2 linked regions of the Homo sapiens genome follow. The protein of the gene in region 1 interacts with the protein of each later gene in a pairwise test. Each region holds a gene or a part of one and is shown in the gene's direction. Other genes may lie near its edges. The genes, in order: AQP11 and STAT5A.

The links.
Region 2: the proteins of AQP11 (region 1) and STAT5A interact in a two-hybrid assay, tested with the Homo sapiens proteins (one large-scale study listed by BioGRID and IntAct).

The regions. Positions count from the first base shown.
Region 1 is NC_000011.10:77,596,415-77,600,232, forward strand, and holds part of AQP11 (aquaporin-11), read left to right. Parts: intron 1-3,818. UniProt on the Homo sapiens protein: Channel protein that facilitates the transport of water, glycerol and hydrogen peroxide across membrane of cell or organelles guaranteeing intracellular homeostasis in several organes like liver, kidney and brain.
Region 2 is NC_000017.11:42,294,680-42,298,497, forward strand, and holds part of STAT5A (signal transducer and activator of transcription 5A), read left to right. Parts: intron 1-939; coding exon 940-1,114; intron 1,115-3,818. UniProt on the Homo sapiens protein: Carries out a dual function: signal transduction and activation of transcription. Mediates cellular responses to the cytokine KITLG/SCF and other growth factors. Mediates cellular responses to ERBB4.

The DNA.
Region 1 (3,818 bases):
TGGGCAACAGAGCGAGACTATGTCTCAATTAAAAAAAAAAAATATATATATATATGTAAATATATATGTGTAAATATATGTGTAAATATATATGTGTAAATATATATGTAAATATATATGTAAATATATATATATATATATATATATATGTATGTAATGGTTAAGGCCAGGTATGGTGGCTCATGTCTGTAATCCCAGGACCGGGACGTCAAGACAGGAGGACTGCATGAGGCCAGCAGTTTGAGACCAGTCTGGGCAACATAGCAAGACCCTGTCTCTACAAAAAAATTTTAAAATTAGCCAGGTATGGTGGTGCACGCCTGTAGTCTTAGCTACTTAAGAGGCTGAGACAGTAAGACTGCTTGAGCCCTGAAGTTTGAGGCTGTATTGAGCCATGATTTCATCACTGCATTCCAGCCTGGGTGAAAGAGTGAGATCTTGTTTCAATTTAAAAAAAAAAAGACTGTGCCCTTAGGCTGAATACTTATTTTGGGCCTCACTTTCCTCATCTCTAAAATGAAGAAATTTCATAAGACTAGTATGAGGAATAATAATTCAAGTTTGTAGCATAGTACCTGCCATACACGAAGTACTTGGGAAATAATTATTATTTATTATTATTATTTCCCTCTATATTTCTAACAGGCTTCCAGTATAATTTGATCATTTTTGCATATAATTTGATCAGTTTTATTGCTCACAACTCCTTTTGGGATAAATTCAGGAAAATGTAAGTTGTAACTTTTATAACGAAATTTGTCCATTGAAAATAAGTAAAGATTTTGGTACAAATCCCTAGGTGTTCCCCACAACATCTGAGAACAGTCTAATGTCATTCTTCCAGGTTTGTAAGAATAACCACTAATTTGAAAACAGGCCAGGCGCAGTGGCTCATGTCTGTAATCCCAGCACTTTGGGAGGCCAAGGTGGGCGGATCGCTTGAGGCCAGGAGTTCGAGACCAGCCTGGCCAAAATGGCGAAACCCAGTCTCTACTTAAAATACAAAAATTAGCTGGGCATGGTGGCTCGCGCCTGTAGTCTCAGCTACTCAGGAAGCTGAGGCATGAGAATCGCTTGAACCCAGGAGGTGGAGGTTGCAGTGAGCTGAGATTGCACCACTGCACTCCAGCCTGGATGACAGAGTGAGAATCTCTCAAGAAAAGAAAACAGCTAGCTAGCTAGCTTAGTTAGTAACATTAGCATATCAGCAGAATACAAACCAGAAATGAAAAGTGGAGTTTGGAGATGCAAACTTTGAAATTATTTGCCCAGTAATGTCCGGGAGTAGAGATTGAATTTGGGGAAAACAAGCAGGCTTGTCATTAGAGAGGTATTTTCTTTTTTTCTTTTTTCTTTTGAGATGGCGTCTCGCTCTGTCACCCAGGCTGGAGTGCAGTGGCGCGATCTCGGCTCACTGCAACCTCCGACCCCCAGGTTCAAGCGATTCTCCTGCCTCAGCCTCCCGAGTAGCTGGGATCATAGGCGCGCTGTAATTTTTGTACTTTTAGTAGAGATGGGGTTTCACCATCTTGGCCAGGCTGGTCTTGAACTCCTGACCTTGTGATCCACCCACCTTGGCCTCCCAAAGTGCTGGGATTACAGGCGTGAGCCACCACGTCTGGCCTAGAGAGGTATTTTCAACTCCTGACAATGATATTTTATCAGAGCTCATCAGGGTATGATAACACTCCTTTTGCTTTGCTTACGTGCTCATTAAAATGGGTTCTCTGGAGAGGGAAGACAAATATTCCAGTTACTAGAAAGCTAGCTTCCACTCTAAATGAATAAATAGACCTTCCAGCTTCTACATGGGTGTTATGTGATATTTAACTAGTATTCTTCTGTCACAGAGAATTTTATTCCCTTTAGGAATATTGAGAAACTTTAGTGCCTAAAATTGCCAGATTTGAGACTTAGCCTCTGGCTGTGGTAATTTCACCAAATCCATGCTGTCCTCTGACTCTTGGCAGTGGACTAGCTGGATCTCCCGGTTATACCTCTTCTTCAACATGCATGATTGTCATCTCCCCTTCAAATGTCAATAAATAGTAACTTGTTTTTTGAAGCCATCTTTTGATAGTTCCATGCCTGATGATTCTTTAAAAAATAATTCATTTTTAATTACACAATACGTGATATGTTCTCTATGTAAAAAATTCAAAGACTAAAGTGCCTTTTGACTGCCATCCTCCATGCCTCCATGCCTGTTTCCTTTCCTTCCCTGTCTACTCTTCCTTCCACGGTAATCCTTGTCTCTGATGTTTGTGTTACAACCTTCCAAACTGGTTGTTTTTGTTGTTGTTTTTTGGGTTTTTCTTGAGATGGAGTCTTGCTCTGTCGCCCAGGCTGGAGCACAGTGGTGCAATCTTGGCTCACTGCACCCTCTGTCTCGCAGGTTCAAATGATTATCCTGCCTCAGCCTCCTGAGTAGCTGGGATTAAAGGTGTCTGCCACCACACCTGGCTAATTATTTTTTTTTTGTTTGAGATGGAGTTTCACTCTTGTTGCCCAGACTGGAGTGCAATGGCACGATCTAGGCTCACTGCAACCTCTGCCTCCCAGGTTCAAGCGATTCTCCTGCCTCAGCCTCCCGAGTAGCTGGGATTACAGGCATGCAGCACCACGCCTGGTTAATTTTGTATTTTTAGTAGAGACAGGGTTTCTCCATGTTGGTCAGGCTGGTCTTGAACTCCCAGCCTCAGGTGATGTGCCCGCCTCAGCCTCCCAAAGTGCTGGGATTACAGGCGTGAGCCACCATGCCTGGCCACACCTGGCTAATTTTTTTTTTCTTTTTGCCCCCGGAGTAGCTGGGATTATAGGCACCTGCCACCACAGCCGGCTAATTTTTCTTTATTAATTATTTTTTTAATTATACTTTAAGATCTAGGGTACATGTGCACAACGTGCAGGTTTGTTACATAGGTATACATGTGCCATGTTGGTTTGCTGCACCCATTAACTCATGATTTACATTAGGTATTTCTCCTAATACTATCCCTCCCCCAGCCCCCCACCCCATGACAGGCCCCACACCTGGCTACTTTTTGTATTTTTAGTAGGGGTTTCACCATGTTGCCCAGGCTGGTCTTGAACTGCTGACCTCAAATGATCCACCAGCCTCGGCCTCCCAAAGTGCTGGGATTATAGGCGTGAGGCACCATGCCCAGCCCCAAACTGTGTTTTTATTTTTATTTTTTTGAGACAGGGCTTCACTCTGTCACCCAGGCTGGAGCGCAGTGGTGCAATCAAAACCTCCGCCTCCCCGGCTCACAAGATCCTCCCACCTCAGCCTCCCGAGTAGCTGGGACCACAAGTACATGCCACCATACCCAGGCAATTTTTGTATTTTTTGTAGAGATGGGGGTTTTGCTATGTTGCCCAGGCTAGTCTTGAACTCCTGGACTCAACCAATCCGCCCATCTCAGCCTCCCAAAGTGCTGGGATTACAGGAATGAGCCATCAAACCCAGGCCCAAACTCTTTTCATGTGCATTTACTATACATATAGATAAAACCCTACAGGAATGATATATTATTACTGTTATTTACTTATTTATTTATTTTGAGACTGAGACTTGCTCTGTTGCCCAGGCTGGAGTACAGTGGCGTGATCTTGGCTCACTGCAACCTCTGCCTCCTGGGTACAAGCAGTTCTCCTGCCTGAGCCTTCCGAGTAGCTGGGACTACAGGTGCACGCCACCATGCCCAGCTATTTTTTTTTTTTTTTTGTATTTTAGTAGAGGTGGGGTTTTACCATGTTGCCCAGGCTGGTTGCGAACTCCTGAGCTCAGGCGATACACCCACCTCGCCCTCCTAAAG
Region 2 (3,818 bases), on another chromosome or scaffold:
CCAGGGCAGGAACATGCCTGTGTGTTCAAGGAACAGAAACAGAAAGCACACATTCCCAGCGAGCTGGGGTTGGAGGTAGGCAGGGCTATGGCCAGCAGACACCATGGGAAGGGGTTTGGATTTTATTCTGAGAACAGTTCATTGGAAAGCCTCTGAGGACTTGTTCCTCTTCATCCATGTGCTCCCTCCCTTTGTGACCTGGTTTCTACCCCTCTCTCTCTATTTTTTTTTTTTTTGAAACGGAGTCTCGCTGTGTTGCCAAGGCTAGAGTGCAGTGGCGCAATCTCGGCTCACTGCAACATCCCCCTCCTGGGTTCAAGCGATTCTCCTGAATGTGCTGAAGGAATGGCTGGATCCAAGGGGAGCTTGTTGATGCCTCCCCTCTAACTTCATTTCGGGGTCTCCAGGATGCCTGTGAGAGTTTCGGCCTCTTCCCTCTTCCTTCAGTCACAAGGGGGTCTTAAGTGAGATGGTGTGTGTTCACACAGCCCTGTTCCTCCCTATGTCCCTAGGATCTACTGCAGTCCATGGTATTGAGTCAGCAAATAAATGTAGAGCGAGGGGTCATCATCATTAGTGGGAAAACCCAGGTGACACCTGGGACGTGTTGAGTTCTAGTCCCTGGGAGGAAATTAGATGGACCCTGTTTGGAATACTCTAGTGGAGGGCAGCTCTGACATAGATATTTGGACTTTGAAGGTGTTACTATCTGCCGTTATCTGCCAGGTCACCTGTTTCTCCTTTCTCTTTCCCTTTTCTATCCCAATTCTGGCAAATGACTCCTTCTGATGCAAATGATCCTTCCTTCTTGCCCTAGTTTCCCTTCTTACCCTAGTTTGGGGTTTGGGGTTTGGGGTCTGTAGTATTGGTGTTTCCTAATGCCTGTGGTCTTCTCCCATCCTCTCTTCCCCGAGTTATTTCCATTCCATCTGTCTCCAGTGCAGCTCTCCGGCTGGGATCCTGGTTGACGCCATGTCCCAGAAGCACCTTCAGATCAACCAGACATTTGAGGAGCTGCGACTGGTCACGCAGGACACAGAGAATGAGCTGAAGAAACTGCAGCAGACTCAGGAGTACTTCATCATCCAGTACCAGGAGAGCCTGAGGATCCAAGGTGAGGCGCGGTGGAGGCAGTGTGCATCCGGAGGGTGGGAGTGAGGAACATTCTATGGACTCCTAGAGGGTAGAGCTGGGTCAGTGTCCATCTCCTCAGCACTTTGCCCAAAGCCTGGTAGAAGCAATGGCTCCCGGTGATTGAGCCCCTGCCGTGGGTCACACTTGGCACACATTATTTAATTCAACCCTCTCAACAAGCCTATGAAGTGAACAGTTGTGTTATCCCCCCTTTTGCAGATGGTAAAAGTGAGGTTCAAAGAGAACAAGTAACTTGGCCTAGGTTGCCTGTAAATTACAGAACTGGATCTCAACTAGAGATATATCATAAAACTCCTGTACTTTATTAACCAGTATTCTCTCCTTAATGGTATGTATTCTGTAAATATCGACACAAATAGGTAAATATGAACAGTGCTCCCTAACCAGAGGGAGGACTTGGATTGGAAGTCTTCTGGTTGAACCAGGCTGGGAGAGGTGGAACTTCCAAAGTGGGCCTTCTTGAGCCTCACGGATAGGATGTGGGCCTGGGGGAAGGGGTGACAGTAGAAAATTCTCCTGTATCCTAGGTCTGTAGTTCGCCAATGGCTCCCATGATAAAGATGTGGGGAAATTAAAAAATCAAATTAGCTTGAAAGGAACTATCCCCAGGTACAATTTGAGGAGTCATGGGACATGGCCCATCTATTAATATGTCCCATTCCAGACTGACCCCAGAAATGTAACACCTCATCTTAGTGAGAACAAGGGGTGTCAAACTGCTTTTTCCTTTACTCTTTTTAATCTGATTTCTTAAGGTAGACCTTAGGTCATTGATTTTAGACCTTTCTTCTTTTCTTTTCTTTCTTTTTCTTTTCTTTTTTTTGAGACAATCTTGCTCTGTCGCCCAGGCTGGAGCACAGTGGCATGATTTCGGCTCACTGCAGCCTCTGCTTCCCAGCTTCAAGAAATTCTTGTGCCTCAGTCTCCCGCATAGCTGGGACTACAGGTGCAGGCCACCACGCCCAGCTGATTTTTTTAGAATTCTATTGTAGCTATTTAAGCTCTCTTCCTAACCCTGCACTGTCAGTGCTTTGTGTACACTGAGACCAGCACAATGCCTGAATATTGCAGCTATTATGTAAATACTTGCAGGATAATTCTAAATGTTTGTTTGTTTGTTTGTTTATTTATTATTGCCCAGGCTGGAGTGCAGTGGCACGATCTCATCTCACTGCGACCTCTGCCTCTCAGGTTCAAACTATTCTCATGCCTCAGCCTCCTCAGTAGCTGGGACTACAGACATGCACCACCATGCCTGGCTAATTTTTTTTTTTTGTAGTTTTAGTAGATACAGGGTTGTGCCGTGTTGTCCAGGCTGGTTGCAACCTCTAGCCTCGAGTGATCTGCCTGCCTCGGCCTCCCAAAGTGCTAGGATTATAGGCGTGAGCCACGGTGCCCAGCCAATACTGACAGGATAATTCTAAGAGAATTTCCCCTCATCTGAATCTATCCCAGACTGGCCCTAGAAGAAGGGCAGCTCCTTCTGAGAATGGAAACGGAAGATTTTGGGCGGTTATTCCTACCCAAGTCCTTAGACTGTCGACAGTATTTCTGATCCCGTGCCTGGCTTTTCTGTTTCCTGTGCATGGTGGCGGATTAGGTTTGGATTCAGGTTGGGTTTGGATCTATCATGCAGTGTCTTCTCAGTCCCATTTGTCAAGTTCACTCAGCAGAAACACAGACTATTGATCTGCTTTTGCCAGGGAAGGCTCAGCTGCCTCCAGTGGAGTAGGGAAATTGCTTCCCGTCTCCCTGGCCTCCTTCCTAAAAGCTTCTGCAAATTTCCAGGAGAGCCCTAAGTGGGTCCCTTGCATAGGAAGGCTGGGCCCAGGTGTTGGGATCACCACCACCCTCCCTGTGGCTGGGCAGGATACCCGAGGTAGCCGTGCAGACACCTCGGATCTGTCCGTGCCTGGATGATCCTCTTCCTGCTCGATACCTGCAGTGAGATTGGAGCCATATTTCTGAGTTCTAGCTCTGGGCTGTTCCTGGCTACATAGAGTTGCTTTTGTCTGTCCCAGCTTGTGCATCCCATGGGTCAGGGCTGGGGTCAGAGTGACGTGGCCCTCAGGGGCCAGCCAGGAGCTCGACCAAGACATGCTGGTGCGCGCATCTTCTGACTCAGCTCAAGCAAGGACGCTGGGCTGTTGAGAAGGTGATGGGAAGGGATTAATAGTCCCAGTGTGGTGGAGACGGGCTGTCGCTGGGAGGGTGGGGTGGGCCTGCGGTGGTGGTTGTAACTGTGGACATGTTTACTTTCTTAGCCTGGGTTATTGATACACAGGCGCCCTTGTGTTCCACATCCCCTGTGTCTTACGTATTTCATAATGGATACTTTTTTTTTTTTGAGATGGAGTCTTGCTCTGTTGCCTTGGCTGGAGTGCAGTGGTGCTCTCGGCTCACTGCAACCTTTAACCCCGGGTTCAAGCAATTCTCCTGCCTCAGCCTCCTAAGTAGCTGGGATTACAGGCATGCGCCACCATGCCCAGCTAATTTTTGTATTTTTAGTAGAGACAGGGTCTTGCCATGTTGGCCAGGCTGGTCTCGAACTCTTGACCTCAAGTGATCTGCCTGTCTCAGCCTCCCAAAGTGCTGGGATTACAGGCGTAAGCCACCGAGCCTGGCACATGATGGATACTTTTTTTTTTTTTTTTTTAGACAGA